Homo sapiens: one gene and its partners. The protein of the gene in region 2 interacts with the protein of the main gene of each other region in a biochemical or structural test. Each region holds a gene or a part of one and is shown on either strand. Other genes may lie near its edges. The genes, in order: C1D, THRB, ANP32A and RANBP9.

Evidence for each region.
Region 1: the proteins of THRB (region 2) and C1D form a complex in vitro, tested with the Homo sapiens proteins (one study listed by BioGRID).
Region 3: the proteins of THRB (region 2) and ANP32A form a complex in vitro, tested with the Homo sapiens proteins (one study listed by BioGRID).
Region 4: the proteins of THRB (region 2) and RANBP9 form a complex in vitro, tested with the Homo sapiens proteins (one study listed by BioGRID).

What each region holds. Positions count from the first base shown.
Region 1 is NC_000002.12:68,059,985-68,067,193, forward strand, and holds the start of C1D (nuclear nucleic acid-binding protein C1D), read right to left. Parts: upstream 3,021-7,209; 5' UTR 2,974-3,020; exon of another isoform or gene 2,961-2,973; intron 1-2,960. UniProt on the Homo sapiens protein: Plays a role in the recruitment of the RNA exosome complex to pre-rRNA to mediate the 3'-5' end processing of the 5.8S rRNA; this function may include MPHOSPH6.
Region 2 is NC_000003.12:24,491,851-24,499,109, reverse strand, and holds the start of THRB (thyroid hormone receptor beta), read left to right. Parts: upstream 1-4,259; 5' UTR 4,260-4,458; intron 4,459-4,618; exon of another isoform or gene 4,619-5,023; intron 5,024-7,259.
Region 3 is NC_000015.10:68,817,876-68,825,611, reverse strand, and holds the start of ANP32A (acidic leucine-rich nuclear phosphoprotein 32 family member A), read left to right. Parts: upstream 1-4,716; 5' UTR 4,717-4,860; coding exon 4,861-4,914; intron 4,915-7,736. UniProt on the Homo sapiens protein: Multifunctional protein that is involved in the regulation of many processes including tumor suppression, apoptosis, cell cycle progression or transcription. Promotes apoptosis by favouring the activation of caspase-9/CASP9 and allowing apoptosome formation.
Region 4 is NC_000006.12:13,708,827-13,716,622, forward strand, and holds the start of RANBP9 (ran-binding protein 9), read right to left. Parts: upstream 3,010-7,796; 5' UTR 2,680-3,009; coding exon 2,109-2,679; intron 1-2,108. UniProt on the Homo sapiens protein: May act as scaffolding protein, and as adapter protein to couple membrane receptors to intracellular signaling pathways. Acts as a mediator of cell spreading and actin cytoskeleton rearrangement.

The DNA of each region.
Region 1 (7,209 bases), on a different chromosome or scaffold from region 2:
AACAGACATCAAAAACTTATCATGTCCTTAACTGAACTCCGAATCTTCCCACAAACCTGCCCCTCCCACAGTTTTCTACTTCTCAGTTAATGGCAATTCCCTTCTTCTAGTTGCTCAAGCCCCAAACTTTGACAATAACCTTATTCTTACAATTCACTTTCAATCTGTAAGCAATTCTGTTTGCTTTTCCTAGAAAATACATCTAAAATTAAACTGCTTCTCCACCTTCACTTCTTTCCAGCCAGTTAAGATGTTATCATCTCATCTGAACTACAACACCTCCGTGATTAGTCTCCTGGTTTTCACCTACCCCACCCCACAGCAAACTATTCTTAAACACAGCAGCCAGAGAAGATTCTATTAAAACGTGAGTCAGGCTGGGCGCAGTGACTGACGCCTGTAATCCCAGCACTTTAGAAGGCTGAGACAGGCGGATCACCTGAGGTCAGGGGTTCGAGACCAGCCTGGCCAACATGGTGAAACCCTAACTCTACTAAAAACACAAAAAATTAGCTGGGCATGGCGACGGGTGCCTGTAATCCCAGCTACTCCGGAGGCTGAGGCAGGAGAATCGTTGGAACCCAGGAGGCGGAGGTTGCAGTGAGCCGAGATTGTGCCACTGCACTCCAGCCTGAGCAACAGAGTGAGACTCCAAAAGAAAAGAGGGGCGAGATGGGGTGGGGCAGGGCGGGCAAGGGCAGAGCAGGGCAGGAAAGGAAACAAAAGAAAACAAAAGACAATAAAGTAAAATAAAATAAAATAAAACAAACCTAAGTCAGATCATGTCACTCCTCTCCTCCTACCTTTCCATTGGTTATTTACTCACTGGGCTATTGCTCAAGGGAAGATTCATGTCGAGGCACATTTTGAACTCCACATCACTAACATAATGTCTTGTCATGTATTAGTTAGTTAGCAACTATTTGTTTACTAACTAAAACCAATCAAAGTAACCTAAGACGTAATTTTGGAAACTCTTAATATCAGATTACAGTTTGAGCTTACAGATACTAGAAAGTCACCACATGGATCCAAACAAACATACGATAATGTACATTCCAGGGCTCTTCCCATCTCTACACCAAATAATTATACACAGTTATGAACTAAGCCAAAGAACAAATCCAACATGATTGTTTTTTGGAATTTGAGAGCCATTTGCTGTTGTTGCACCAGAATTCTATTACTGTAATGAATTACTGTAATGACTTTTTCGCACTGCATTATCTTAGGAGAAAATAACAATGAAATGTACACACAAGTTCTCAATAAATATTGCTGTCTTGGGCAAACAGTGACTCCATGTTAGTGTTGTCTGTAACTCTCCTTCAGTCCCACAGTACAATTCCTGAGTAAATATAGACTTCTTCCTTTTCTAAAAAATATATTAACATCTAAAAATAAATTTATCCCAAAGTCTAATAGGAGAGTATATAAATTACGAGGATATTGCTCAAGATTGAGATGAACAATTACATTAAATTAAATTCACTTCTATTCAAAGTTTAATTCAAAGCATTTCCAAAATTACAGCAATCAAGCAGCAAAATTACCTTCCAAAACATATGGAAGTTGATTATTACAATTATCTTATTTCTGAAATAAGAGTATATAGTGTTGTTGCACAGATTAAATAAACTAGATAAAAGCCATTAGAACGGGGCCTGGCTCAGTTAGCACTCAATACATTAGATAGTATTTTACTAAAAGTGAAAATTACCAAATACTCTAATCCAATGTGAACTATTTAGAGCCATGCTTGAAGGGTCAACTTTGGAAACAGTAGCTGAGATAATACATATGAAGAGCCATTTGAAAAGGTAAAAGCAGTTAAGAAAAAAATTACATTACTTTTGAACTGTGATACATACAACACAGCTAACTGAAGGCAGCTGTAGTATCTTTTGACTGAGAATTTTATTTTGAAAAACCGTTATTCACACTTGTCACTATCTTTCAACAAAACAATGAGTTCTATCATTTCCACCAAACACAAACATTTCTCTGTACTTCAATAGGGCTAATCTGTTGTTTTTGAATCAAAAATACAGAGTTAAATAACTAAAAGTATAACTGGATTGTTTGTAACACAAAGGATAAGTGCCTGAAGGGATGGATACCCCATTTTCCATGTGATTCTTACATATTGCATGCCTGTATCAAAACATCTCGTGTACCCCATAAATATATACACCTATGTACCCACAAAATTTTTAAATTTAATTTTTTAAAAAATCACGGTTAAGTCTTGGTTCAGTCCACCATCAGACAGTCCTAATAGGTTAATAAGTGGATAGCAAACATCTCATTGCGACAAATACATCTTTATCAAGCCAAAACTGAACTGTAGTCAGCAAACATTGAGGACATTAAAGCTATTTTGAAACAAGTTTGAGTTACACTGAACTTATCCGGGTCATCAAGAAAAACTGCTCTCTTGGATTACCCACTACAGATTTCAGCTAAAGGTCGAAATTAGCCCACTATCTCAGATGAGCTAATACTGCAGCAGCAGGCAGTCTGTGAATGTGAATGATAAACGGAGCTAACACAGTAAAGTTACTCCCCTAGACGTTCCACTTTAGCCTCTCTCCCTAAGCAAGATTGAAAACAGCTGAAAATTGTGAAGACTTCAATGTTTTTTGATTTTTGTTTTTAATTTCTTCGTCTTCCAAGATTTGAGAAGGGGGTGGTTAACAAACGAAGAAAAAGAGAGAGACCGGAGCAAAAGAGAGAAATGAGGGGCCGGGGTAAGCCAAAGCCTGCAAGCAGCCCCAAAACAAGCGGAAGTGGGGGACCTGCCAACAATGCTGCCCCAACGAAGAGCTGTGAGAGACTGCATTCCTGGAAGGCTACGCAGCCAAACTCCGATTTTCTCAGTCTGCCCAGAGGATGACAGGGGAATCCCAGGAGAGGAAAAGCGGAGTTAAACAGGAGCAGGAGAAAAACTGAAACTACACCTTAGAAAAATACCTCACGGCCTTCGACTCCAGTCTCCCGGAAAGCGGTCGGGCAACGATGACGACAATGACGCGCCGGCTCTGCCCCCGCCACGAGCGGCGCTTCCCGATGATCTCACGCTGCTCGCCACGCCCCCTGCTCCTTAACTCTTCTCCAAAGGCAAATCTCATTTTGAGTAGCTCAGACCCATGTTGTGGGAGACGATTGCGGCGGCACTCGGAACTTTTGTCTACCTTTGTACCCGGCTAACACTCACCCCAAATACAGGTTGAGTGTATTTAACCAGGAAAAAAATCTTAGTTATCGAAACTTTGTTCGGGTTTTTACTTTCCCAGAAGCTTTTTTCAGGGCCCTCATTCTTTCTACCCTTTTATTGTCTGCCTCTAGATGAGCCTCTTAGAGCAGCTTCCCAGATTATCCGTGGGGAAGAACAGGTTCTTTATTAGATTATCCGTGGGGAAGAATGGGTTCTTTATTTTTCCAATCTGTCAGTAAAAGGTACTTCTATAAAATACAGTAAAAATGAATTAGTAGAAAAATGGGGAAAATATGTGCAAAATACAAGCCCAAATTTTTTATTAGTTTCAAATAAATGTAAAATTGCATTTCAATGTATGCAATCAGAACAAACATAATAGAAAATAAAGGCATTAACAGAAACTGTACATACTGTTCATTGAAAGTGTAGTATAAGCGATTGAGCATTGTCTTAACATTTGTAACTTGTCATTCCACGGCTGTAATTTGATAAAAAGTTATGCATGAAACAGTTGTCCGTATATTAAATGCATGTAAAAGCATTTTGAACAAGCACCATGTATGTAATATTTAAAGTTTTGGGGGAGGTTCCAAAGTGGCCGAATAGGAACAGCTCCAGTCTACAGCTCCCAGCATGAGCAACGCAGAAGATGGGTGATTTCTGCATTTCCAACTGAGGTACCGGGTTCATCTCACTGGGGCTTCTCAGACACTGGGTGCAGCCCACAGAGCAGGGCGAGGCATGACCTCACCCGGGAAGCACAAGGGATCAGGGAATTCCCTTTCTTAGCAAAGGGAAGCCATGATAGACGGTACCTGGAAAATTGGGACACTCCCATCCTAATACTGTGCTTTTCCAACGGTCTTAGCAAACGGCACACCAGAAGATTATATCCCGTGACTGGCTCAGAGGGTCCCACGCCCACGGAGCCTGGCTCACTGCTACCACAGCAGTCTGAGATCAAACTGCAAGGCAGCAGCGAGGCTGGGGGAGGGGCGTCTGCCATTGCTGAGGCTTAAGTAGATAAACAAAGTGGCCAGGAAGCTTGAACTGGGTGGAGCCCATCGCAGCTCAAGGAGGCCTGCCTGCCTCTGTAGACCCCACCTCTGGGGGCAAGGCATAGCTGAACAAAAGGCAGCAGAAAGTTCTGCAGACTTAAATGTCCGTCTGACAGCTTTGAAGAGAGTAGTGCTTCTCCCAGCACGGAGTTTGAGATCTGAGAACGGACAGACTGTCTCCTCAAGTGGGTCCCTGACCCCCGAGTAGCCTAACTGGGAGACACCTCCCAGCAGGGGCCAACTGACACCTCATACAGCTGGGTGCCCCTCTGAGATGAAGCTTCCAGAGGAAGGATCAGGCAGCAATATTTGCCATTCTGCAATATTTGCTGTTCTGCAGCCTCCGATGGTGACACCCAGGCAAACAGGGTCTAGAGTGGACCTTCAGCAAACTCCAACAGACCTGCAGCTGAGGGTCCTGACTGTTAGAAGGAAAACTAACAAAAAGAAAAGACATCCACACCAAAAACCCATCTGTACGTCACCATCATCAAAGACCAAAGGTAGATAAAACCACAAAGATGGGGATAAATCAGAGCAGAAAAGCCGAAAATTCTAAAAATCAGAGCGCCTCTTCTCCTCCAAAGGAATGCAGCTCCTCACCAGCAATGGAACAAACCTGGACAGAGAATGACTTTGACAAATTGAGAGAAGAAAGCTTCAGACGACTGGTAATAACAAACTTCTCCGAGCTAAAGGAGGATGTTTGAACCCATTGCAAAGAAGCTAAAAACCTTGAAAAAAGATTAGACGAATGGCTAACTAGAATAAACAGTGTAGAGAAGTCCTTAAATGACTGATGGAACTGAAAATCGTGGCACGAGAAGAACGTGACGCATGCACAAGCTTCAGTAGCCGATTTGATCAAGTGGAAGAAAGAGTATCAGTGATTGAAGATCAAATGAATGAAATGAAGCAAGAAGAGAAGTTTAGAGAAAAAAGAGTAAAAAGAAATGAACAAAGCCTCCAAGAAATATGAGACTTTGTGAAAAGACCAAATCTGCATCTGAATTGTGTACCTGAAAGTGACTGGGAGAATGGAACCAAGTTGGAAAACACTCTTCAGGATATCATCCAGGAGAACTTCCCCAACCTAGTGAAGCTGGCCAACATGCAAATTCAGGAAATACAGAGAACACCACAAAGATACTCGTCGAGAAGAGCAACTCCAAGACACATAATTGTCAGATTCACCAAAGTTGAAATGAAGGAAAAAATGTTAAGGGCAGCCAGAAAGGTCAGGTTACCCACAAAGGGAAGCCCATCATAGTAACAGCTGATCTCTCGGCAGAAACTCTACAAGCCAGAAGAGAGTGGGGGCCAATATTCAACATTCTTAAAGAAAAGAATTTTCAACCCAGAATATCATATCCAGCCAAACTAAGCTTCATAAGTGAAGGAGAAATAAAATCCTTTACAGACAAATATACTGAGAGATTTTGTCACCACCAGGCCTGCCTTACAAGAACTCCTGAAGGAAGCACTAAAGATGGAAAGGAACAACTGGTACCAGCCACTGCAAAAACATGCCAATTGTAAAGGCCATCAATGCTAGGAAGAAACTGCATCAACTAATGAGCGAAATAACCAGCTAACATCATAATGACAGGATCAAATTCACACATAACAATATTAACCTGAAATGTAAATGGGCTAAATGCTCCAATTAAAAGACATAGACTGGCAGATTGGATAAAGAGTCAAGACCCATCAGTGTGCTGTATTCAGGAGACCCAACTCACATTCAGAGACACACATAGGCTAAAATAAAGGGCTGGAGGACGATCTACCAAGCAAATGGAAAACAAAAAAAAGCAGGAGTTGCAATCCTAATCTCTGATAAACCAGACTTTAAACCAACAAAGATCAAAAGAGACAAAGAAGGCCATTACATAATGGTAAATGGATCAATTCAATAGGAAGAGCTAACTATACTACCTATACATGCACCCAATACAGGAGCACCCAGATTCATAAAGCAAGCCCTTAGAGACCTATAAAGAGACTTAGACTCCCACACAATAATAATGGGAGACTTTAACACCCCACTGTCAATATTAGACAGATCAACGAGACAGAAAGTTAACAAGGATATCCAGGAATTGAACTCAGCTCTGCACCAAGCAGACCTAGTAGACATCTACAGAAATCTCCACCCCAAATTAACAGAATATACATTCTTCTCAGCACCACATCACACTTATTCCAAAATTGACCACATATTTAGAAGTAAAGTACTCCTCAGCAAATGTAAAAGAACAGAAATTATAACAAACTGTCTCTCAGGCCACAGTGCAATCAAACTAGAACTCAGGATTAAGAGACTCACTCAAAACCGCTTAACTACATGGAAACAGAACAACCTGCTCCTGAATGACTACTGGGTACATAACAAAATGAAGGCAGAAATAAAGATGTTGTTTGAAACCAATGAGAACAAAGACACAACATACCAGAATCTCTGGGACACATTTAAAGCAGTGTGTAGAGGGAAATTTATAGCACTAAATGCCCACAAGAGAAAGCAGGAAAGATCTAAAATTGACACCCTAACATCACAATTAAAAGAACTAGAGAAGCAAGAGCAAACACATTCAAAAGCTAGCAGAAGGCAAGAAATAACTAAGATCAGAGCAGAACTGAAGGAGATAGAGAAACAAAAAGCCCTTCAAAAAATCAATGAATCCAGGAGCTGGTTTTTGAAAAGATCAACCAAATTGATAGGCCACTAGCAAGACTAATAAAGAAGAGAGAATAATCAAATAGACACAGTAAAAAATGATAAAGGGGATATCACCACCGATCCCACAGAAATACAAACTACCATCAGAGAATACTATAAACACCTCTACACAAATAAACTAGAAAATCTAGAAGAAATGGATAAATTCCTCGACACATACACCCTCCCAAGACTAAACCAGGAAGAAG
Region 2 (7,259 bases):
TATGTACTCCTTGCTATAACCAGCCATGCCAGCATGTCTACTGCATCTCCAACATGCCCTATGCTTCTACCACAATAAAGGATCAAGTTTTTTCCCCATGGCCAGCTTCATGGGCATGTGATCTGGACAGCTGCATACAACCCATGCTGGGAAGGGCTTGGTGCTTGAGGCCTGGCACTTCATTTAATGCTCTGTTGTCACCGTAATGAAATTCCTAATAATTTTATCTTTGAACTTTTGTTTTGTAAATGAAGGCTGATGGGACAATGGAGCATGTGCATGAACAGAGGAAATACAGATAACATGCATAGCTGCTGCCATTCTTTACTTGTTCCACTCACACATAGCATTCTTGTTGCCCCATAAGCACAGAATCCCTGTGGGCACACAATGTGTGGGAGTTCTGCAAAACTCAAATTGAGTATGAGGTAAGCATGTCACATCAATGACTAAGTGAGGACACTGACAACCCCAAAATGGGGTTTGCCACGCTTTCCATTCCAACCAAAGCCTGATTTGAATGCAAAAAGAAGGTAACAACCAAGGAAACTTTCTCTGTCTTTTCTTATGTTAATACTTCTCTGTAACCACTTAGTTTGAAAATGATGACATAGAAGGAAAGAGAAAGATAAGGCAACCTATAGTTCCTTTTCCTTTCTGGTCTCCTTTATTCAAAAGTAAGCCAAAGGCAGAGTGTTGGTAAAAACGGGCATATATCAAGATATGAAATAAAAAAGTTAGTTTTGTGCTGTGAATTAGAGTGTACTTGAATTAGATAATTTTGACCCTGTCATCTTCCCCAAGAAGCTGTCTTTCCTGAAGGGTTGGAGTTCTTACCCAGCTGCTATGGACCAGAATCACTGGAGCCCTCATAGAAAAAATAAGTTCCAAGAACTAACAATGAACAGACAGAAGCAGAATCTCCAGGGCTAGGTCAGGTGGCTGCACAGCCAGCTTGAGAAGTAGCTGAATAAGCAAAACAATACCAGGGGTTCCAGTCCCAATACTCCCTGGCAAAATGTGGTCCATCTTTGATGGATTGGTTCAAGTGCCACCATTTTCCATGAAATCTTCCCTGATTTTTCCCTCCCCTCACGCCCACGTCTCTAACTCCCTGACCCCAAATCCTTCACTATATATTAATTATCTTTGACATCTAGGACATTCTAACTTGAACTTTGCTTCTCTGAAAAGACTCTGGTAACACTGAGGGCATAGCAGGGCAGGGACTAGGTTTAGGCAAGTGAGGCACTCATCCCTGGTGTGAAATTTAAGGGGATGCCAAAAAAGAAAAAAAAAAAAGCCTCAGTAAATCAGGAGAAATATTTTAATGCACTATTTTAAAAATCAAAATTAATGCAACAATTATTCATGATGAACAATACATCAAAATTTTAAATAAAGGCAGGCTCAGACCCTGCACTTGTATCACTGGCCTCACTCACTTCTGCCCAATCCGAGCCCTATGAGGTTCTGTTTCATTCATTTTCTTACACCAGTAGTTGCTAAATAAATAAATATATGAATGAATTGCTTTCTTGAACTGAGTCATCAGCTTAAAGGTATAGATCCTGGTAATGAGGATGTCTATGGTGAAATATGGGAATGGGTCCTGGAAACAGCCTTGGTGTGCCCTCTCAAGTCAGCTGGAACACATGACCACATAATCTAAAGTTTGAATAAATGTTCTTCCTTCAATCAAGTCATCATGACATTCTCCTCCATTGTCCTACCTTGTGTAAAACCAGAAAAATAAATGACATGATCTCTTGGTAACCCTTCTTTACCATCATCATGCAGCCTGTAGGACAGCCCTCAGAGGTCCTGTTCAAAATGGAACCCTAGTAGTTCACGTTATCATTAACATTGCAGTAAAACTGCCCTCCCCCATTGTTGTAGAACATTGTTACTACCACAGTCTCATGGATTGTTTGAATAATGCCACGCCCTTTATTTATTTCATGCTTTAATTGGCTCATTTCTGAATTTTCTGGGCAAAATGAGATCAGAAAGACAAAGCCCTTGAACAAAGAGAAGCAACAGTTTTTGTTACATTTCATTTTGTCCTCTGTATGTCTCCTTCTTAAATAATTTAGCTCCAAGTTATACTCAGGAAGAGAAAAAAATTAAAAGTTCCAGTAGGCCGAGAAGCCCATGATCCACCGTGTTGAAGGAAGATTTGCTTCACCTCACCACCCCCCAACCCCCTCCCGCCCCCCCGCGGTAATACTAAGCTGTTCACACGCTGTGAAGAAGACCCGAAGACTAGGTTGTCAACTGTTGGGGCCTACCTGCGCCAGACTTCTTCCTCAGTGGCCAGCTTTCTCACCCCCCGTTAGCCACCAGGGGGCCGCCTGCTTGGAACAAGTGGTGTAGACGCCACAGCTTTTCTCCAAACCAACCAAAACATTCCGGGGCAGCTTTGGAGCAAAGCCCAGGAACTTCCCTGCAAAGGAGAACAGCTCTCCAACTACAGAAGCCTGCAAGTCCTATGGTGCAGACTTATTAAGAGTAGAGAAGAAAGCACGGACTTCTCACCGAGGACCAAAGGGAAATGGGGTCTCTGGGGCCTGCAACTTTCTTAAAAGTGCATCAGTGAAACCCTGCTTATCCAGCGGGGTGGTTGTTAATGCTGTCAGCAGGGGTGGGGGGCCTCTCACCCCTTTCCCTGGGACGCTCAGAAGAAGCGAGAATAAAACATACATGTCACTGGCTGGAAATCTAGAGAACCTTCCAATAAATAACCTATACATTGTCAGGCAGCTGAGGATCCATATCGTCATAACTCTATTATACTGCGTGTTACACGAATAGATGTGAATATTAAATTATGATGTCGGAATTATTTTAATACTGTCTATAAGAAATTAATTGTACTCTGTTGTCAAAGTAGTTTTGTTGCAACTATAGTTCCTTATTGACTACCTTTTAGCTGAGTGAGGACTCGGTATTTCCCAAGTATCCTTCTAGCTCAGAAAGCAAGTCTCTTCCTGGTCTCCAGGACTTAAGGTCGGGGGCATTTGAGAGACCTATATTTGCCCGGGAAAGATCTCTTGAAGAGTATACATTATTTTTGTCTTCCTGGTTTTATCTATACATTTCCAGGGCAAAGACAAATTAATAGGGCGGCCGTTCTGGGACCTGAGGAGTGTCTCAGCCCTGTACGCGCCTCTCCCACGATATGCATAATGGCGGTGGGGGCGGGGGTGTCCTCCTTAAGGGCAACCCAGGCACGTCCCAAACTTCCATTCGTGGGGTGGCCGTGGTGGTTAAGAGAGCTGCCAGATGGTCGGACCAGCGGAGGCCCCAAGAAGAGCCAGAGCGCCCTGTATTCCCGACACGCGCCACAAGTGGTTTAGGAGCGGAGGGAGGAGCGCTGCGGCACGGGTCGGGCCGGTCGGGCCGGGCAAAGAAGGCCGAGACGTGCTCCTGGAAGACTCGCCCTCCGGTCCCGGTGTCACTCGTTCCCCATTCTTTCCTCTTCTCCAACTAGAGTAATGACGCCCAAACCCGCACCTATGCGCGCAGGCAATCGGGTGGGTGGACGCGCGGCCACCAAACCCACAGCACCGTCACCAACCCTGGGAGGGCACGGCCGGGATTAGGAGGAGGGGGAGCGCCCACACCTGGGGAGGCAGGTGCGGAGGCGGCCGGCCCGGGGACCTCGAGTGCGTAGGACTCGGGGTCGGGGTCGGGGTCGGCAAGCCGGGCGCTGTGAGCGCGTCGGAGCGCTGGCCCGGAGCCTGGCAGGGGGCGTCTGTACCGGCTGGGCAGCCCGGGGCGGTGGCGATGGCTGGCGGCGGCGGCGGGGTGTGCGCCAGGAGGCCATTTCCTCGCTGCGCCCCTGGCGGAGCCGGGTTTGCCTGCTCTTGGCCGCCGCCGCCACCGCCGCGCAAGTCGGACAGCCGTGAGGGCTGGAGGGGAAACCAGGTCACCGGTTCGCAGACGCGGCGCGGAGCAGGCGCCCCGGGCCCGGAGTAAGACAGCGCCCGGGAAGCGGGCCGGGGCGGGCCGGGCACGCGGGGGACCCGGAGAGGCGGGGACTCTGGTGCCCCAGCCGCAGTAGCTTCCTACGCCTATAAAAGTGGAGAGACCGGGGAGGTGCGGCGCGGCCCTGGCTGCGGCCGCCTCTCTTCGCCCAAGGAGTTGACATTTTGCAGGACTCGCGCGACGCCCAGTCGCCGGCGCTCCCCGGGACCCCGCCGCCGGGAGGAGGGGGCGGAGGAGGGTGGAGACTGCGGGGCTTGGCCAAGGAAGGCGCACATCCTCGGGCGGGCGGCCGTGACGCGGCGGGGATTAACTTTGCATGAATAATGTGAGTGCGCTTGGAAAAGAGACCTCCTGCTCCGCGGGCTCGGGGCAAGAGCCCGCAGGCTACCTTCCCCGGGCAGGGGCGCTCAACCCAACCGGCTCCAGGGCACTGGTAATTTGGCTAGAGGACCGCGCGGAGGCAGCGGGGTGAGAGGAGGAGGGGGCGACAGTTCCAACTGTCCACAGGGTGGGCGGGATGGTGACGGAGCGTCGCAAGAACCCGGAGGGGTGCGGGCGGCTAAGCCGAGCGCGCGCGGGCGGGCAGGCGGGTGAGCGTGGGTGGTGGGGGTGTCATCAGCCTGATTACCTGCCTCCGCGGGGCTTCTGCGCCCCGGATCTGGGAGGAGGTGCCCTCTCGTGTTCGGGCACCGCGCGGCGGCAGGCTGGGAGCTACGGAGTGGACAGTGGTGGAACAGGGTGGCCGGGCTCTGTTCCAATCGCAGCGGCTCTGTTCCTCAAACCCCAAGCCCAGCTGTTGACATGTTCCTTGTGAAATGGAGTTTGGCATCCTCAGCGCCGAACCCAGTGGAAGTTTCCATGATGAGGAAGTTGTGTGACATGGGGGTTCGGAAAAGGTTGGCAGGCCAGGGGGGAGGGTTAAAGGGACTGTGGGTCTCCCATCCCCCCTTTTTCGCCTGCCCCGGAACTCCCGGGCTTGGAAAGGAGAATTATCCTGGATGTTGGCGTGCGCCGTGGCCGGTGCCTGGCGACTGGGCTTCTCTCCGCCTCCTGGGGGCTTGGCGGGGATTTCGCTAGCCTCCTGGGTCGCGCTCCTTCGCTTTGCTTCTCTTGGCGCAGCATCTTCCTCTGGGTCTCCTCGAGTTGGTTGTGATACCAATTGTGCCAACTGTGTGACCTCCACCCCCTCGGAGAAGGACTCATTTGGGGGAATTTTCATTCTTAGTGGATTTTGCCCTTCTTAGCGGCAGTTGTCACTTTGGGGGAGGATTTCCCAATGACCATTGTGGGATTATTATTAGTGTTAATTCTTAAGCCTTCTTATTTATTTTAAGGAGGGGGAGGGAGAAAATGAGATGAATTTTTTTTAAATGTACAAGTTTCCCCAAATGGAAAATTTTAAAAGAAGGATCTAGAAACATAACAATTCATAAAGTGAGTCAAAGAAAGGAAAGAGTTTGCATGAACAGCCAAGTTCAGATTCTCCATTCTCCTTTGTCCACATAAATTTAGAATTTTTGAAGATTCAAACACTGTGTAATCAGTAAATATATTTGAAATACCTTCTTCCTCAGCACATTATTGGTCTTGGGTACTAGTGAGATTCAGTTTTAAAGACCTGTGTGGAAGTTCAAGAAATTAAGCATTCCTTGCACAGTGTATTAATATCAAGCACAGCAGTTTATATAATGATAAATGTATTAGGTAATGTAGACCTGTTGGGCAATCTTCACATTATTTGGCTTTAGTTTAGTATGCTTATTTAAATTGTAAGAATGTATAGCATGCAATGCACTGCAAAGAAATAAAAATTGCATTTTAACGTGTTCATGATTCATTCTGAATATTCAGTGACTGACCTGCTCCCCAATTCACTTCTGCTTAATTCTTTCTAATTCCGAAATCAGTCAGAGGCTAGGAAACAATGAAAAACGTGTTTCAGTGCAAAGTATTTTAAGCAGTTGATGTTTTTAGGATGTTTTCATGCCAGGTGGCTAAGTGTTTTAATTGAGTCAAACAGAAATCCAGTACCAAGTGATTTGTTTGGAGTGTTTTATACAAAGACATTGGTGAACGATCATTTATAATTTGAGCATGTTAAAGAAATACTAACAGAATCTATTTTTACCTGATCTCAGAGGTTTATTATATATTGGAAGTGAGACCATCTGCTAGTAAATACAGTTTGGCTTTATTTTATAGCCAGTGAAAAATAAATAATACTGAGTATAGCTACAGAACTGGTTTTTTAAAGTGAAATAATTCCTGTTGGCATTACAATGCAAAGGTATACTTTTATTGACATTGGAATATTGTTACATAAAGCAACTGACATTATGTAGAGGAATGAATATTCCATGTATCTCCTTTCAGTTTCTTTGTAGTAAATTCTGCCATAATTAGAGATGAATTAAGACAACTTTTTAATCCATTATCTTTGGGAAAGGTGATTTCTTAAAATCGCCTTAAAAGCAGAGAAAGCTGTGGATTCCTTTCCTCTCCTGGGGTTTTTGCAGTTGTTTAAAGCATGAGTTGTGTGGAGCCACAAATGGTATTGCATGTTTCTTTTTTTAGTAAGCCCATCTTTTTGATGGAAATCAGAGTAAAGGTGATTGGTTTCTTCGCCCTGGTCTTCTCATTCTAGTGTAAGATTACGTGTCACCTTCTTAGAAAGCCCTTCCCTGACCACTTGAGCAAAGGCGGTCCCTCATTCCTTTTCAGACCCATCACACTGGTTTTTCTCTTTGTTTGTTTGTTTTGTTCTTCTTTTTCTTTCCTTTATTGTATTTGCAATCTGAATTGTTCATTTCAATTGATGCTTGTTGATCGCCTGTATCCTTGCCTAGAATATCGAATCCATGAGCACAGGACTCTTGACTGCCTCACTCACTCTTATTTTCCAGCATCTAGAACAATACTTGGCACACAGTAGGTGCTGGATAACTCTTTGGTGAATAAATTAATGATTGTGTCCAAATATTATGTTCTCAAAAATACCTGACTACACATCCTAAGTGGGTGCCAGTTGGGCATGCCAAGATCTATTCTGTGTGTGCATGTGTATGTGTGTGTTGCACACATTCCATGCTTATATGGTTCACTCTTTATTTTTCTCTCTCTCTCTTTCTTTTCGAAATAAAAGCTGGTCTTCCATTCTGTGTAGTGACAATGCAAAGAGCTATTTCTGCGAGTTCCTCCTAAGGGCATTTGCCTTGAATACATGGAAATCCTCAGCAGCAGAATTTTTCTGACATGTTACCTTGATCCCT
Region 3 (7,736 bases), on a different chromosome or scaffold from region 2:
AGTGCAATGGTGCGATTTTGGCACATGGCAACCTCTGCCTCCCGGGTTCAAGTAAGTCTCCCGCCTCTGCCTCCCGAGTAGCTGGGATTATAGGCACGTGCCACGAAGCCCGGCTTTTTTTTTTTTTTTTTTTTTTTGTATTTTTAGTAGAGATGGCATTTCACCATGTTGGCCAGGCTGGTCTCGAACTCCTGACTTCAGGTGATCCACCCGCCTTGGCCTCCCAAAGTGCTGGGATTACAGGCGTGAGCCACCATACCTGGCTTTTTTTTTTTTTTTTTTTTGAGACGGAGTCTCGTTCTGTCGCCCAGGCTGGAGTGCAATGGAGTGATCTCTGCTCACTGCAAGCTCCGCCTTCCGGGTTCACGCCATTCTCCTGCCTCAGCCTCCCGAGTAGCTGGGACTACAGGCGTGCGCCACCTCACCCGGCTAATTTTTTGTATTTTTAATAGAGACGGGGTTTCACCGTGTTAGCCAGGATGGTCTCCATCTCCTGACCACGTGATCCGCCCACCTCGGCCTCCCAAAGTGCTGGGATTACAGGCATGAGCCACCGCGCCCGGCCTTTTTTTTTTTTTTTTTAATGAGACAGTATCTGGCTATGTTGCCCAGGCTGGAGTGCCGAGGCGTGATCTCTACTCACTGCAATCTCCACCTCCCGGGCTCAAGGGATCCTCCCACCTCAGCCTCTATTGTAGCTGGGACCACAGGTGCACGCCACCATGCCAGGCTAATTTTTTTTTTTTTTTTTCATTTTTGGTAAAGATGGGGTTTCACCATGTTGCCCAGGCTGGTCTCGAACTCCTGAGCTCAAGCTATCTGCCTGCAGCTTCCCAAAGTGTTGGGATTACAGGCGTGAGCCACTGCACCTGAGCCTTTTTTTCCTTTTTAAAAGAAACCAACCATCTTTAAGCGGTTTTTAAGATTTTTACTGTTTTTTGTTTTTAGAGAAACAGGTCTTGCTATGTTGTCCGAGCTGTTCTTGAACTCTTGGGCTCAAGTGATCCTTTCACTTCAGCCTCCCAAGTAGCTGGGCCTACAGGGGAACATCACCATGCCTGGCTTATTAATTTCACTTTAAAAGTCACATATATGACAGTTTTCATCCAACAGGGCTTTTTCTCCCTGACCAATCCATTAATAAGGTAACTATCCAATCATTAAAAAAAAATTCTTTTTCTAAATTATCCAATACTTTATTAAGCAAAATAAAATAATATTTAACTTTTTAGATCCCAGGCTTCAACATTATTTGCTATTCAATGAAAATAAATAAAATGTAGTGGTTTTCACATTTGTTACCACAGATTTCAAAATAATAATCTACATTCCTAAAAACTATTTACATATACAAACAAAAAAGAACATAATTAAGCTGGAGTTTTTCCATGTCATTGTCTTTGGGGTCCAAGCAGCAGAACCATGATGTAGGTAAGAGAGTACTACGGCCGATTGCCAGTGATGTGATTCAAGCTCAAGAACAAAAAGTTGAGCTGTGGGTATATTAGCTTGACTCATAAAAAGGATGCTAACCAAAGGGTCTCCATCTTTAGAGACCAAACAAGGGCAAATGTGCTATTGGTGCAAAAGTAATTGTGGTTTTGCCTTTTTTAAAAAAAATGGTAATTACTTTTGCACCAACCTAATAAAATGGCAATAGTAACGATATGGTTATTTGTAAAACAGTACTCTCCTACACATTTCAAAAGAGCCTAAGGACACTCATTGTTCATGTCTTTGAGAACAAAATAGGCTGCTCATTTATTTGGAATGGTTCTTGATGGAGGATATTCTGGAAGGCGGGAAGATCTTTCCTTCCTGGGCCATCTATCTCTCTAGGGGGTTAAACTTTGAATTGTATCTCATTTATTCTTCTCAGTGTGACTCAAACCTAGTTTCAGAGGTTAGAGACTCTACATCTTTCAAACACAATTCCTGTTGTAGAATTACTCAGTAGATAGGAACTCTTACCTGTTCCCAACTCCGTTTCAAAATTCAGCCAAGATTCCTTGATATGGGATTTCTTTCTATATTTTCTGAAATGCAGTGCCACTTAGAACACTTATTTACTATTATAATATACAATAAAATGTAATTTAAAAAACAACTTTGTAAAATAAGATATTTGTAAGAGCAGTGGTTTTTTTTATATTTGGTCATGTTGTGTGGGGCAAATACAGCTCAGCTTTGGCTTTACTATATTCCTTTTTTAATAATAAAAAAGCAAAATCATATGAAAATTTTCTTACATATAGATCTATTTGTAAAAGCAAAAGAAAATTTATTTCAAGTGTGTAAGGAAAGCGGAAATTACTCAATTGGTTATACATATACTTTTGGATATTTCAATTTCTGTAACGACTGACATCCAGTGAAGCCTTCTTTCAATTTTCTAACATTAATACAAAAGTCATCAAAATGTATAAATGTAAGATGCTTCTAAAAACAACTGTCACATTTAACGTTTTGATTTAGTAATCAGGCCATGATTTTTTCGATTCTAATTTGTTTCTGTACTTTCTCTTTAATGGGGGAGGGGGTGGGCTTCTAAGTCTTCCTCTTGAGTCTTTGTACAATAAAGTGAGCTATTTGCTTCTATTTAGCAAAGCTGGATGGGGCATATCTCTGCATTTGATTGGTTGGTTTTTAAGGGATTACTCCTCTGGAAAGACACTGTCTCATATTGCATTGCTAGCAGCGTGGTCTTAACTGTGGTTAAACTTTTAAATTGAAAATGAACATTTACCATCAAAGAGAACACAAACTTCAGGACTCCTATGTTACACAGATCATACACACCATATTGACCTGTTTTGATAAGAGTTCTGTTTGAATACAATCCTAAACACCATATCCAGAAATAACAACTGTCTCAATGGCATAAATAGGAAATTTGGGGTTCCTCATGTATTACAAAGAAGCCAATAAAACTTAGAATAAATTCCAACTATACAAATAGGCTTCAATAAGATTAACAAAATCTGAGGATGACAGGCAAGTCAACAAGTTAAATAAATTATACTATTTATACCCAGATAAAATAAAACAATGACTTCTAACTTTTATGGTGCATTTCCCACCTAATCAGAGTAAACATCAGACTTCAAATTCCATTTATCATTTTATCTGAAAGAATTTACTGAGTAAAATCCTTAGTTGCAGGGCTTTACACTTGCAATCCATCAGGTTGCAATATTAAAGTTACTACAGCTTCTTCCCCAGTGTAAGCATTCTGTATGTGTTTTATTTACATTGTCACTTTTTATTTCCTCCTCAACTTCGTATGTCTAAGAATGAAACTGGATTGCTATTATGCAACAGTATTTTAACTTTGCAACATACATACTGGCTTATCTCTCCTTTGAACTCCTGTTCCTGAAAAATAAACATATGTATCCAGAAAAACTACCTTGAGGCGTGTGGGGAAGAGTGCAGACATGTAGAAACAAACACTAAAATACAGTCGTGTGGAAAGGTAAGGATGTATCTGTCCTCGTTGACAACAATCCCCGTGGTTTATTAACAGCCACAGGCAGCCAACTTAGTGCCGTAAGTCGGTAACCCAGTGGGCATCGGGGCTTTAAGGTCTCTTAAAACTTAATGTGATTCAAAAATACCCAAGGCAACCACGCCGAAAAACCAGGAGAAAGGGCTCCAGTTAGAGCCTCCTTGGCAACCCAAACCGAACCGAATGACTCAGGTGGACGATTAGAATAAACCGTGCGCCGTTCTCTTTCACTAGGTCTATAAAGCCCAGAAATTATGTTTGGTCCAGAAAACCAGGAGTTATGAGCACCTTCCTTTTCCACCTTTTAATATTCTACATATCTAGCAACGGTTCTTAATCCATGGTCTTCATTCATTTATTGCCTAAACAAGATCTTGGGTGTCTCTTGGTGATCACTTCTTCCAAGCTGACCTAATATGACAGCAAAGTGAAAAGCCTCTTCGTGGGAAGGGTCGCGACCGCGCGGTAAGTCATCCAAAAGTGGAAGCATCTTGCTTTTACTGACTTATGTATACGAGGGTGGCGATGGTGGCGGCCTGACAGGGACGAGGCCGGAGGGGAAGGGGCGCGCGGGCTGCTGGGCAGCCGCGGTGGGGGTGACGGGGGCAGCCACGCTCCCCAGCGCGAGCCGCCGGACCCGGGACCCGACGAGCCCCTCCCGGCATTGCACCCTGACCCCTCTCCTCCTTCCAGGCCTTTCATCTGCCCTCCCGCTGGGCAGCCCGCGGTCCCCGGACCTCAAGCCGCCCGCCTCCTTCCGCAACCCCGTCGCGCCGCCCCGCGAAGCCCTCGGCCGGGCGGGGACCCCGACCCGACCCCTCCGGCCGCGCCCCTCCCCCTCGCAGAACGCACCTGCGGCCCCGCCCCCGGCCGAACGCTGAGGCGGCGGCTGGCTGGCAAGGCCGGGCGGCTCGGCCCTCGAGGCACAGTCACCTTCCCTTCCCCCGCCATTCCGCCCACCCCCCTCACTCAGCCACAGAGCAGCCGCCGCGCTCCTCAGCCGCCCCGAAATCTAAAGGGGTCCGTCTCCGGCACCACTACCAAATGGCCGAGCCTCCCTGGCCGGCTGCGCAGCCCGCCCATTGGTCCCTTCCCCCCCCCGCCGCCACTGCCATTGGCTGTTGCCCGGAGACCCTCGGCGGCGATTGGCTCGGGCCGCTGCCGCTCGTCCATGGGGCCGCAGATCCCGCCTCCACGGCGATCAGGTTAGTGTGCGCCGCGGGTGCTGGGGGCTCGAGAACCGAGCGGAGCTGGTTGAGCCTTCAAAGTCCTAAAACGCGCGGCCGTGGGTTCGGGGTTTATTGATTGAATTCCGCCGGCGCGGGAGCCTCTGCAGAGAGAGAGCGCGAGAGATGGAGATGGGCAGACGGATTCATTTAGAGCTGCGGAACAGGACGCCCTCTGATGTGAGCATTTGCCAAAAATATCTCTGTCGGTCCATTCTCCTACTTTGTGTGTGTGTGTGTGTGTGCGCGCTGGGGGGAGGCACTTTTTTTGGGGGGGGGCGCCCGGGAGGTGCGGGTTTGGGGGTCGGACTGCAAGCGAATTGGCAAGGCTGGGGGGTTGCAATGCCATCCGAGCATGTTCCGGCTGCCGCCGCCGCTGCCCTTGGTGTGTGACTACCTGTGCGTGTGCTCCCGCGTGTGCGAGTGTGGGTGCGAGAGTGTGCGTGCGAGTGTGCACCCATCGGGGGCCGGCGGGCGCACGCGTTTGGGTCGGAGAGAATGAGGCGAAATCACCCTCGGAGATCGCTGCTCCCGTGACTCCGTCTGGGGGGAAGATTAACGAGGGAGGAGGAGGAGAGGGGCTGCCTCCTGGATTTAACAACAAAAAAAGGGGGTTTTACATTTTATAAATGTATCCCCCCTTCCGCCCCCCTCCCGCGCCTCCCCCCTCCCTTTCTCTCGCTCGCTCGCTCGCACACACAATAAGTTTGGGGCTTCGCGAGTCCGGTTTAGTTTCTGATAAATGTGGGCCGAGGCCCCCGGGGAGAGCGCGTGGGGAGGGGGCTGCAGCGGAGTTGGGAATGGCTGGAGTTTAAAGTGCGTCTTCATTTCTTTGCAGTGATGAGGCGAGAGACGGGGGAGCCATATTTGTAACTTTGTAGTGTTCGTGAACGCGCCCTTTCTCTCCCTCCCTCCCTTTCTCTGCCTCCCTTCCTCTCCTCCTCTTTCTCCCTCACTCTTTCCACCCCACCTTCGGGCCAGATGCTGATGTTTCTTCCTTTCCTTCCGAAGGGAGGATAAATTAGAAGGAGGGGGAGGGATTTTCGAACGTGCTAAGGCACAGATAATCCCCGCGTCTCCCTGCCTCCAGCGATCGCTGGTGCAAGTTGCCCAAAGGCTACGTCCCGGTGCCCCCTCGCCCCAGCTCCTTCCGGCTTCCCCAAGATGCCAGCCTTTGGGCCCTGGTGCCCCCCAGCTCGAACCCCCGGCCCGTCTTTCTCAGTGCTGGGCTTGTCGGCAGCCATTCGGCGCCTGCTTAATAAATGGGCACGGGAAACTTTGTCAGGACGCGAGCTGCCCGGAGCTGGCGCCCGTGGTGGGTACTGGCTGGGTCCACGTTTATGCGGGCATGGCAAACACGCAGCTCTAGGATGGGAGTTTGCCCGCTAGCCGCCGTTATTGATTGGGCAGCGGCGGGAGCACGGCCGGAGGAAACTTACACGGGTGGGAATCGCGAGGCTCGAGCGAAAGCTTACCCCTGAGGAGGGGGAAGGTGAGGGTGGGTGACTCGAACGCTGGTTTTTATTTCTGCCTCCCTCTCGCTTTCAAACCTGAGTGTTTTCGGCGAGTTGGCGGCTCTGGGGCGGAGACCCTGGCCAGCTCCCCTCTTGGCCCCTTGGGGGGACCGGGGACGCGCTGGCGGGAGGACGCCCCCAGTCTCGGTGGCCCGAGCTCCATGGAGTTGGGAGTTTGGGCAGCACCGTGCGCTGGCCTGTCGCCCCTCTAGCCCGTTAAACCCGAATCCCGGCGAAGGCAGGCCTCGCTTCCTCTTTTCCCTAGTTCCTCCCCCAAACCTGAGTGAGACTTTTGAAAACAAGATCCTTTTTGTCTACCCCCTCCCCGCCTTAACGCAGCTGTGGACTGGAGACGTGCGAGTGCCTTATGGCGCGCAGGGCGGGGAGGGGGCGGCCGCGGGAGAGGAGGGGGCGCCGCCGGTGGAGGCCGGAGTTTCCGCGCACTATTTGCGGGCGGTTTGCCTCTCTCCGGCCGCTTTCGTCCCGGCCGGGACCCGGCGCCTAGCGTTTGGGGGCTGGGTGTGGTGATGGGGGAGGGGGCCGGGGCCGCGGTCTTCCCGCGTACTTTCCGGAAGCCCCCTGCGCGGAGGGGGAAGGGCGCCAAGCGCGGGGCCGGGGTCGCCGCGGGTGGGTGCGGGGGCGCGGCTGGCCTGGCGAACCCGACCGACGCTGCCGGCCCCCCGGGAGCAAGCAGGAAAGCGGGTCGAACCGGCTCTTTAAACTTCCACGAGTGTGTGTGTGTGTTGGGGAGGGGAGCGCACCGCGCCGTACTGGGAGCGATTTCTCACGCTTCGCCCCCTCGCCTCCCAGCCTCGCGGCCCACACGCCTGCCCCCTGCCTGGAGGCGGGGTGGGGCGCGGGTGGCGGAGGAGGGGGCACTTTCTGCACATTTGCGGGGGAGGGGGAGAAAGCTAGCGAAAGAGGGACAAAAGGGTTGGGGGAGGAGGAACTGTATTTTTTTAAACGTTCTTAAGACAAATGGCTCCCGGAGCGCGCCCCCTGCGCCCCTCCCCGCCGCGCTGCCCCTGGGCCCCCCACACACCCACCTTCGGCACCTCTCCCAACTGGGCTCCGGGAGCTGGTGGCCATGCCGCGACGCCGAAATAGGACGAGCAGCCATGTTTCCCGGGGCTCGCGCCGCACGCCCCGCCCCTCCTCCCCGGCGCGGGGCGCAGGGCTCGGAATGCGGGCTCCGGGCTCCATGTGGCGCGGGGCGCTGGCAGGCGGGCGGCGGGGGTGCAGTACGCGCGGGGCCGGCCTTGTGGCTTTCTAGGCTGGTTTTGAGTTCCAGGTGTTTTATTTATTTATTTTTATTTATTTATTTTTTTTAACGGCTAGGCCCACTCGGGGCTGAGCCCGAAGGGCGCCGAGGCGTTACTGGGGGGCAGGAGCCGCCTCCAGGGCCCTGCGCGCCTGTGGCACGACTGCCGGGCGCCGGGCTGCCATTTTGTCACCGTGGCTGTTGTCGCTGTGGGGGGCGGGGGGAGC
Region 4 (7,796 bases), on a different chromosome or scaffold from region 2:
ACACACACACACACACACACAGTCTACAGTAACAAGACAAGAGGAAGAGGCAGTAGAAAGGGAAAAAGACTTTCTGACAAGGGGTAAGAGAGAGACAAAGGAAAGATAGAAGAGAGGAAAAATAAAAGGATAACAACAAAATCTGTTCTTCCAGAAATAATGATTTATGTTTATAAAACAGTTATGTTCCCAGAAAGTGAACCTTAGTATTACACAACAGAAAGTAATAAAGAGGCCAAGAATAAAAACAACTGAGACAGCAGTGTCAGAAATATTCCAAACTCCAACTAATTTCATATAAACGTGTATTTTTCTCTGACCTAATCATCAATTTTATGTAAAAGACTAAAACTAATCAAGACACCTTACAGTACTAAATAAACAGTAATCACGAATCTTAGACATCACGGAAATTCAGAGCTGGAAATTTCCTTACCAATCGTCCAGCTCAACTTACACACCACTCAGAGGAAGAAACTGAGGCTCAGTCTTGTAAAATATCTACAACCACAAACAACTGCAGAACTCAGGAAATCTAGAATTCTTTGTTCATCTACACTGGCTCTGACTTTATGAGCAAATTATTTACTGTCAACCATAAATTTAAAATTATAAAATTCTGTCACATCTAACAATAGCTTTCTGGCAGCCAGATCAGAAGTAAACACCTCATAACATAGCACCGTTCACACAAATTAAAACATAAAAGTAGAAATACTTCACAAGGAAATTAACAAAAGGTCCTAACTTGAGAAAAAACAAAGATTTGATATTGTGAATGAAACGTTCAGACGTTTAGATTAAGGAGGATAACACTTGGAAGTACTTCTTTGGATGTATGGCGAGAATAAAAAGAATGTTCAACAAGGCCTATTTTTGTGCGTGATTCTTTGCAGCCAAATCATTTGGTAGATTTCTATTGCCATTCGCCTTTCTGATTAAATAGTAACTTACTTATCAAGCTTCTTCTCAAATTTCAGTCCCGTATAAGTTAAGAATTTAACCACAAGGTTGTTTATCTCCTCTACATACATGTCACTAGGATCTGAGTAGACCCCTTTACAGCCAATCAAAGTGAGGCTGCCGTGAATGTAAAAGCTTCTGCTTTAGGTTTGGGGCCTAAAACCCTGGATTTGTTTCCAGACAAGACTGATACGTTAGGTTGATTTTTTTTTCTTCCACACAAGTAAACTTGATACATGCTATTAAATTGGGCTACATTTCAATAGTTCCCATAGCAATTCATAATTTTATATACAACTGATTTGCTTCCAGCTTTGTTTTAACCTAGGAGAGGTAGGTGAGGGAGGAAAGGGGCAAGCACAAGCCTAAGGTTGTTGTTTTTAACTGCAAGTGCAAAACATAAGCCAATTTTCTTCAAAATACTAAGCTGCATTTTGTTCCATCTTCGTTTTCAACAAGACTTCATGTGATATCAACACCTAAGGACCTGTATAGGGCACTTCCAATCGGGAGGGGTAGGTTTCTGCTCCCCTAAGAAAAAGGGTGTTCCTGGGGTTCCCTTCTCTTACCCTCCCGGTTGCTTTTACTAAAATATATTGATGGCAAACTTGGGCCCCTTGTCCTTTTGTCCCCCTAGACAATCTCTGGCCTAATTTTGATTACTCCTCCCCCTGTGTATCCCTGCTCTCTCTTAATTAGAAATCATACCTCAGAATCGTGCCTCTCTTCCCCCCTTGTAAGAGGAGAACGCCTGACCCACCACCTGGAGAACAATGTAACCCAACTCCGAGTCCATGGATTCCTCTACCCAAGCCCCAAGATTTATCTCCCAGGGAAATCAGAAAGCCAGTTCTGTCCTGTCATCCCGGATTCCCTCAAGGTGTCCTGCTCCTGGTCTAGGATTACCAGCTCCTTTCTACCCTGGGGCATTCTACTCACCTTCCTTTTCCAAGAATCTCGCCCCTCACCCTCGGACCCTTCACCGCGACCCCCGCGCCCACCCGGAGCAGCACAACAGGCGGCGAGTGGCCTCCGAGGGCAGAGCCCGCGAGGGCGGGGGTCGGGGGCGGGTCGAGAGCGGCGCAGCGGCGGCCGGCCACGTCGGGTCAGTGCCCCACTCCCACCGCAGGACACACGCCCAGTACCTTTGTAGTGCACCCGCAGGTTGTTCTGAGAGAGGCCGATGTAGCTGAACTTGTCCTTCGGGCTCCAGGACCGAGGCAGCGGCGTCTCTTGTTCGTCCACGGCCGGGTAGAGACGCTTCAGCCGCCGCTGCAACTCCTTCTCCTGCTCGTTCAGGGCCGAGTCCCCGTGAGGGAAGGGGGCCGCGGCGCTGCTGCCCGCCACCAGAGCTGGGGTCGGGGCTCCTCCAGCCGGGCCGGGGCCCGCTGCAAGGCCCGGGGGAGCGGGCGGCCCGCTGGCGGGGGCAGCCGCTGAGGCAGGGGGAGGCGGGGGCGGCGGCGGGGGCGGCGGGGCCGCGGTGGCCGGGGGCGGCGGCGGCGGAGGGTGGAGGAGCAGGGCGGCCGCCGCGGCCCCTAAGCCTTCGCCGCCCGCACCGCCGCCGGGCGAGCCGGCCGGAGAAGAGCCGGCGCTGACGGCCGGGGGCGCCGGCAGGACGACTCCGGAGACTGGGGCCAAGGCCGCCGGCGGTGGCGGCGACAGCTGCTGCTGCTGTTGCTGCTGCTGCGGCGGCGGCGGCGGCGGCTGCCCGGACATCCCGGCCGCGACTCAGCCTGCGGCCACCTCCACCTCTTCTCTCCTTCCTCCTCTGCTTCCCGGGGGCGCTGTCGCTGCGGCCGCCGGCACCAGGCGCCCAGTCCGCCCGCCCCGGAAGCAGGCGGCGGGCCGCGCGCCCAGGGAGACCGCGGCGGTTGAGGAGCTCGGAGACGCGGGAGTAGGCGGCGGGCCCGGGAGGCCGGGAGAGAACGTTGGCCGGAGCGCGGGCGCGCGGCCCGGGGACGAGGCGCCGAGGGCGGGGGCGACGCGGGAGCGCGGGAGGGGAAGGCGCGCTGGCGGCCGCCGCGGCCGCTGCTCTCGCGGCTGTTTCCCGGCGGGCGGGCCGGGCCGGCGCGAGACGCTGCGCGCGGGCGGCGCTAGGCGAGGGGGCGGGACGGAGGCGCGAGAGAGGCGCGAGCGGTGCGAGGGGGCGGGCCGCGGGGCTCCCGGCTGTGCGCCGCGAGGCGTCCTCCCGGGCCCGCCAGTCGCTCGTGGGCAGGATCGCTGGGCTCCCGGCGCCGCAGGTCCCTTCGGAGGTGTCCGCCTCCTCTCCCTTGGCGGCCGCCGTCGCCCCCCTCGCCGGCGAATCCCCTCCCACTTGACTTCTTTTTGTTGTCGTCGCCCCACCTCCCCACCGTAGGGCTCCTCGGAGCCGAGGCGCCGCTTCTCGTCCAGGCGAGAGTAATCGAGCCCCGCTGGGGCCGCCGCGAGCCCAGGCCCCGGGGCGCTCTAGGACCCGTCGGCCCGGGGCGTGCGGAGCGGCTCAGGCTCCCCGCGCAGTGCTGCTAGCTCTCGCCTCAGTCCCGTTCCCGTTTGCCGCCTCCCTCCAAAGAGGAACGCATTGCCTTTGGTACTTCAGTGTTTAATTCCGTAGCATTGACCATATGGGCAGTAGAAACCACTTCTGAAGGCAGTCTCCCACTTAGAATAGTGACTGTTTCATTAATTAATTTTACGAGGACTCACAGTGAACTTAACAGTGGTAGAAGATGTCATTAATAAAGACCGGCATATCTTCAAAAAGCAGGAGCAGGCACTGTATGAATACAAGATTATAGTGTGTGTTTAGGAAGGGCTTCTAGAGACGTCAGAACATTTTATAGACTCGTTAATTTTCATAACAGGGTTCTTAGGTAACAGAAAATTATGCCCATTTTTAAAACAAGGAAATATTTACCGAGATCAGCAGAGTCAAAAATAGGACTTCCTACTTTGCAATTCCCAATAGAATGCTTCGTCGACTAATTTGGCACAACTTGCCAAGTGTTGCTCTCTGACCCATCATAACATTACTACTTTGTTTTCACCACTTCCCTTTGTTTAGCTTATCCCTCCCTAGCTGGCAAAATCAGGCTTTGCATATGTAAATTGTGTGATGTAAATTCTGATATTTTGTTTGCTTCCAAAGATATGATGGTAATCATTTGGTCAAATAAGAAATGTTTTGCCGAAGAGAAAATTATTTCGTTTTGAAGAAGGTAGGCCAAAGGTGATTTAATTTAAGGCCAAGATTATCTGGCCAGAACAAATAACAGAGTCATTCGGCCTAATTTCTCCCTCAGTTACCCAGACAACTAGATGTTCTGTTGTACTTTTATTATTATTATTATTATTGTTTTGTCGCCCAGGCTGGAGTGCAGTTGTGTGGTCTCAGCTCACTACAACTTCCGCCTCCCGGGTTCAAGCGATTCTCCTGCCTCAGCCTCCCAAGTAGCTGGGACTACAGGCATGTGCTCACACCCAGCTAATTTTTGTACTTGTAGTGGAGACGGGGTTTCACCATGTTGGCCAGGCTGGTCTCGAACTCCCGACCTCAAGTGATCTACCCGCCTCAGCCTCCCAAAGTGCTGGGATTACAGGCGTGAGCCACCATGCCTGGCCTCTGTTGTAGTTTGATAGAAATATCCATTAATTTTAACCTGTTGTTTGATGACTTTTTTTAAACCACTGCACTTTGAATCACATGATGTCACTGTATTTACAGTGTTCTAACACTTTCATTTATATTACAGTAACAATGAGTTCAATGTAAGCCAAGCTCTATTTAAATGTACGATAGCCATGTTAGAATAAATGGGCTCCAGACGTCATTAAACTTTCTTGAAACACTTTTGAAGATGTACTTTTTTTCTGTCAGCACACTTAGGAACTATCTAGAACTTTCCGTATCTTAGGAACAGCTGAAGGAATAGAATTGTCTAACATTTTGTTGGAAGCATTTTATAAGGGGGACTGGTGGTTCTCCATCAAGAAATTAATGATTTCAGTTGTGGGGGAGGATGCTGTGAAATGAGTACTTTCTCATATAGAAGGAGATAGAGAACATTGATAACGTCCTTTTGGAAAGCTACATACTTGGTTATATTTATAAGGAGACATAAAGGAGTTCATACCTTTTGACTTATCTATCAAAAAGCCAAACAACACAATCTAAATATGAAAATACTTTAGGCTGAAAAATGTTCCACAAGAAGTATTAATGGTAGATTAAATATAGAAGCAAATCAAATGCCCAACCGGAAGAGACTAGAAGAAATTCTAGTCACATGTGAAATTCTAATCACATACCCCACTCAGTGGAGTTATGCTACAGGAGCACATATAGCACATTCGTGCCATTTTTTTTTAAGGTATCCCTTCTGGGCAGTGGAAGTGCCAAAAGAGGTCAACCAATTAGAAAAAGGCACCCCTTCCTCTTGACTTAGTGGATCCTGGGCCCACCTTCAGACCCACTCTCTCCAGGCTTCTTGCACAGGCACAGCCTGAAACAAATATTTTATGGCCTCTTAAAAATATGTTATTGAAGACATAGAAAAATGATTATGATATGCTAAATGAAAAGAGGCAATACGATAATTATAGCACTGCCAAAATCATTACCAAAAAGACATGAAGGAAAAATTGTAAAATGTTTCCATAATGGACAATTATAATGCATTATTAAAAGTAATGTACTTTTATTATGAAAATAATAGAATTGTACATAGATATGTAAATAGTAAAAATCCATTAGCCATGAACATATCCACACCCTTCTTGAACCTATGTTTTCAGTCTTTACCATGTATTGCTCTAATATTACCCAGTATCTGTATCTGCTGGGTTTCTCAGTATCGAACAATAGGAACCAATTCTGGCTCTCTTAAGCAAAAAAGGAACTTACTGGAAAGATATTAGATGGTTCTCAGAATTGACCAGAAGGCTGGACAAGCAGGCCTGAAAACTGACAATGGCCAAAGGAGGAGAGGCTGCATAAATAGACTGGCCTGGACCCCAGCACTGATCACAGAAATCACTGCCAGATGTCACCTTCAACACCTGGACTCTTATCTCTCTGACCTCCAGCCTTTACACCACTCACTCAAGTTTCAAAGTCACCAAGCCTAGATTGTGTGCCCATGCCAGAATACACCAGCAAGCAGAGATTCCCAGGTTATCCAGTGACTGGGTTACAGAGATGCTACGTTATTGATAACTTCAGCTCAGGGTGGGCCTTGAGTGGTTACAGCCACCAGAACTGGTCCCTTCCAACAGTGAGCAGTCTTGTGCATTCAGAGTACCATACACATCTTATTTTCTGTGCATGGCATAACATGAAAATGTTTAGGACACATTGCCCTAGTGGAAAAGGGCCACTGGTGCCCACAGTAGAGGATTTTCCATACTAGGAAAGATACTAGGAAAGAGGTAAGATGCTGACCAGCCTGTTTCAGTCAATGCCCATGACAGTATCCTTCTGAGTACTGGAAAATGTTATGGCAATGTGTGCCAAGATCTATAGTATGGTTTTAGGGTCTGGATTAGTTATCTATGGCTGCAGAATAAATAATCCTCAAATTTAGTGGCTTAAAATAACGTTTATTATCACACATTTTCTGTGGGTCAGGAATCTGGCACAACTTCACTGGATCCTCTGCTTCAGGGTCTCTCATGAGCATTAAAGGTGTCAGTTGGGGTTGCAGTCATCTCAAGACTTGACTGGGGAAGAATCCACTTTCACACTCACTGATGTGGTTATCACACTCATTGATGCAGTTCCTTGAGGGCTGCTGGACTAAGGGATTCAGTTTCTTGTTGGCTATTGGCCAGAAGTGGCCCATGATGCCTTGCCACATGGGCACCTTCAACATGGCAGCTTGCTTCATGAAAGCATGCAAGCCAAGGCAATCGTGGCAAGACAAAAGTTACAGTGTTTTGTAACCCAACCACGGAAGTGACATCCCATCACTTTTGCCATATGTTTGTTAGAAGTGAGTCATCAGTTTCATCCCATATTCAAGGGGAGGGGATTACACAAGGCTATGAACACAAGAAGGTGAGGATCATTGAAGGCCGTCTTTGGAAACTGACTCATACAGGGTCCTTGTAACTTCCAGTGACCCTGGGGAACTGCACTTGCCACATTCACATCAAATATGGATTCTAGACCAGGGATCAGCAAACTTTTTCTGTAACAGGTTAGATAGTGAATATTTTAGGCTCTGCGGAACATAGTTACCTGTCGCAACTACTCAATTTTGCCATTGTAAATGAAAGTAACCATAGATGATACATAAACAAACGGGCATGGCTGTGATCCCGCAAAACTTTATTTACAAACATAGGGAGCAGCCTGGATTTGCCCTACAGGCTTCAGTTTGTGATTCCTGTTCCAGACTATTACATCAACGTTCCTTATAAACCATTCTCAACACTAAAAATGAAAGCCAAGTCACTAGCAATGAAATCCTAGGAGTCAACAAATTCATTTTATTACCCACAATGCGTGCTGCACTCCAGTGTCCGAGGCAGCCTGATGCCACACGAATGGAGTAAGCATATTTCTGCACGTAGTGTGGCAAATTCAAATGGATGACAAATGGCTGAACAATGTTAGTAAACTATAGCAATAAAGGGTCCAAGTTTGGGAAAGTTCTCAGTCAGCATTTATGAAGCACCTGTTATGTTGGAACCCTGGGTCCTGTCTTCTCTAGGCAGGGAATGAAGAAAAGAGGCAAGACAGATTACAAAGAAAAACAGCAGTATGGAATCTACTTCTTCGGTGAACAGTCTAGTTGGAAAGTGATACGGTTTTGAGAGATGACAGCATGTTGGGAGCCCTCGCTCACTCTGGGTGC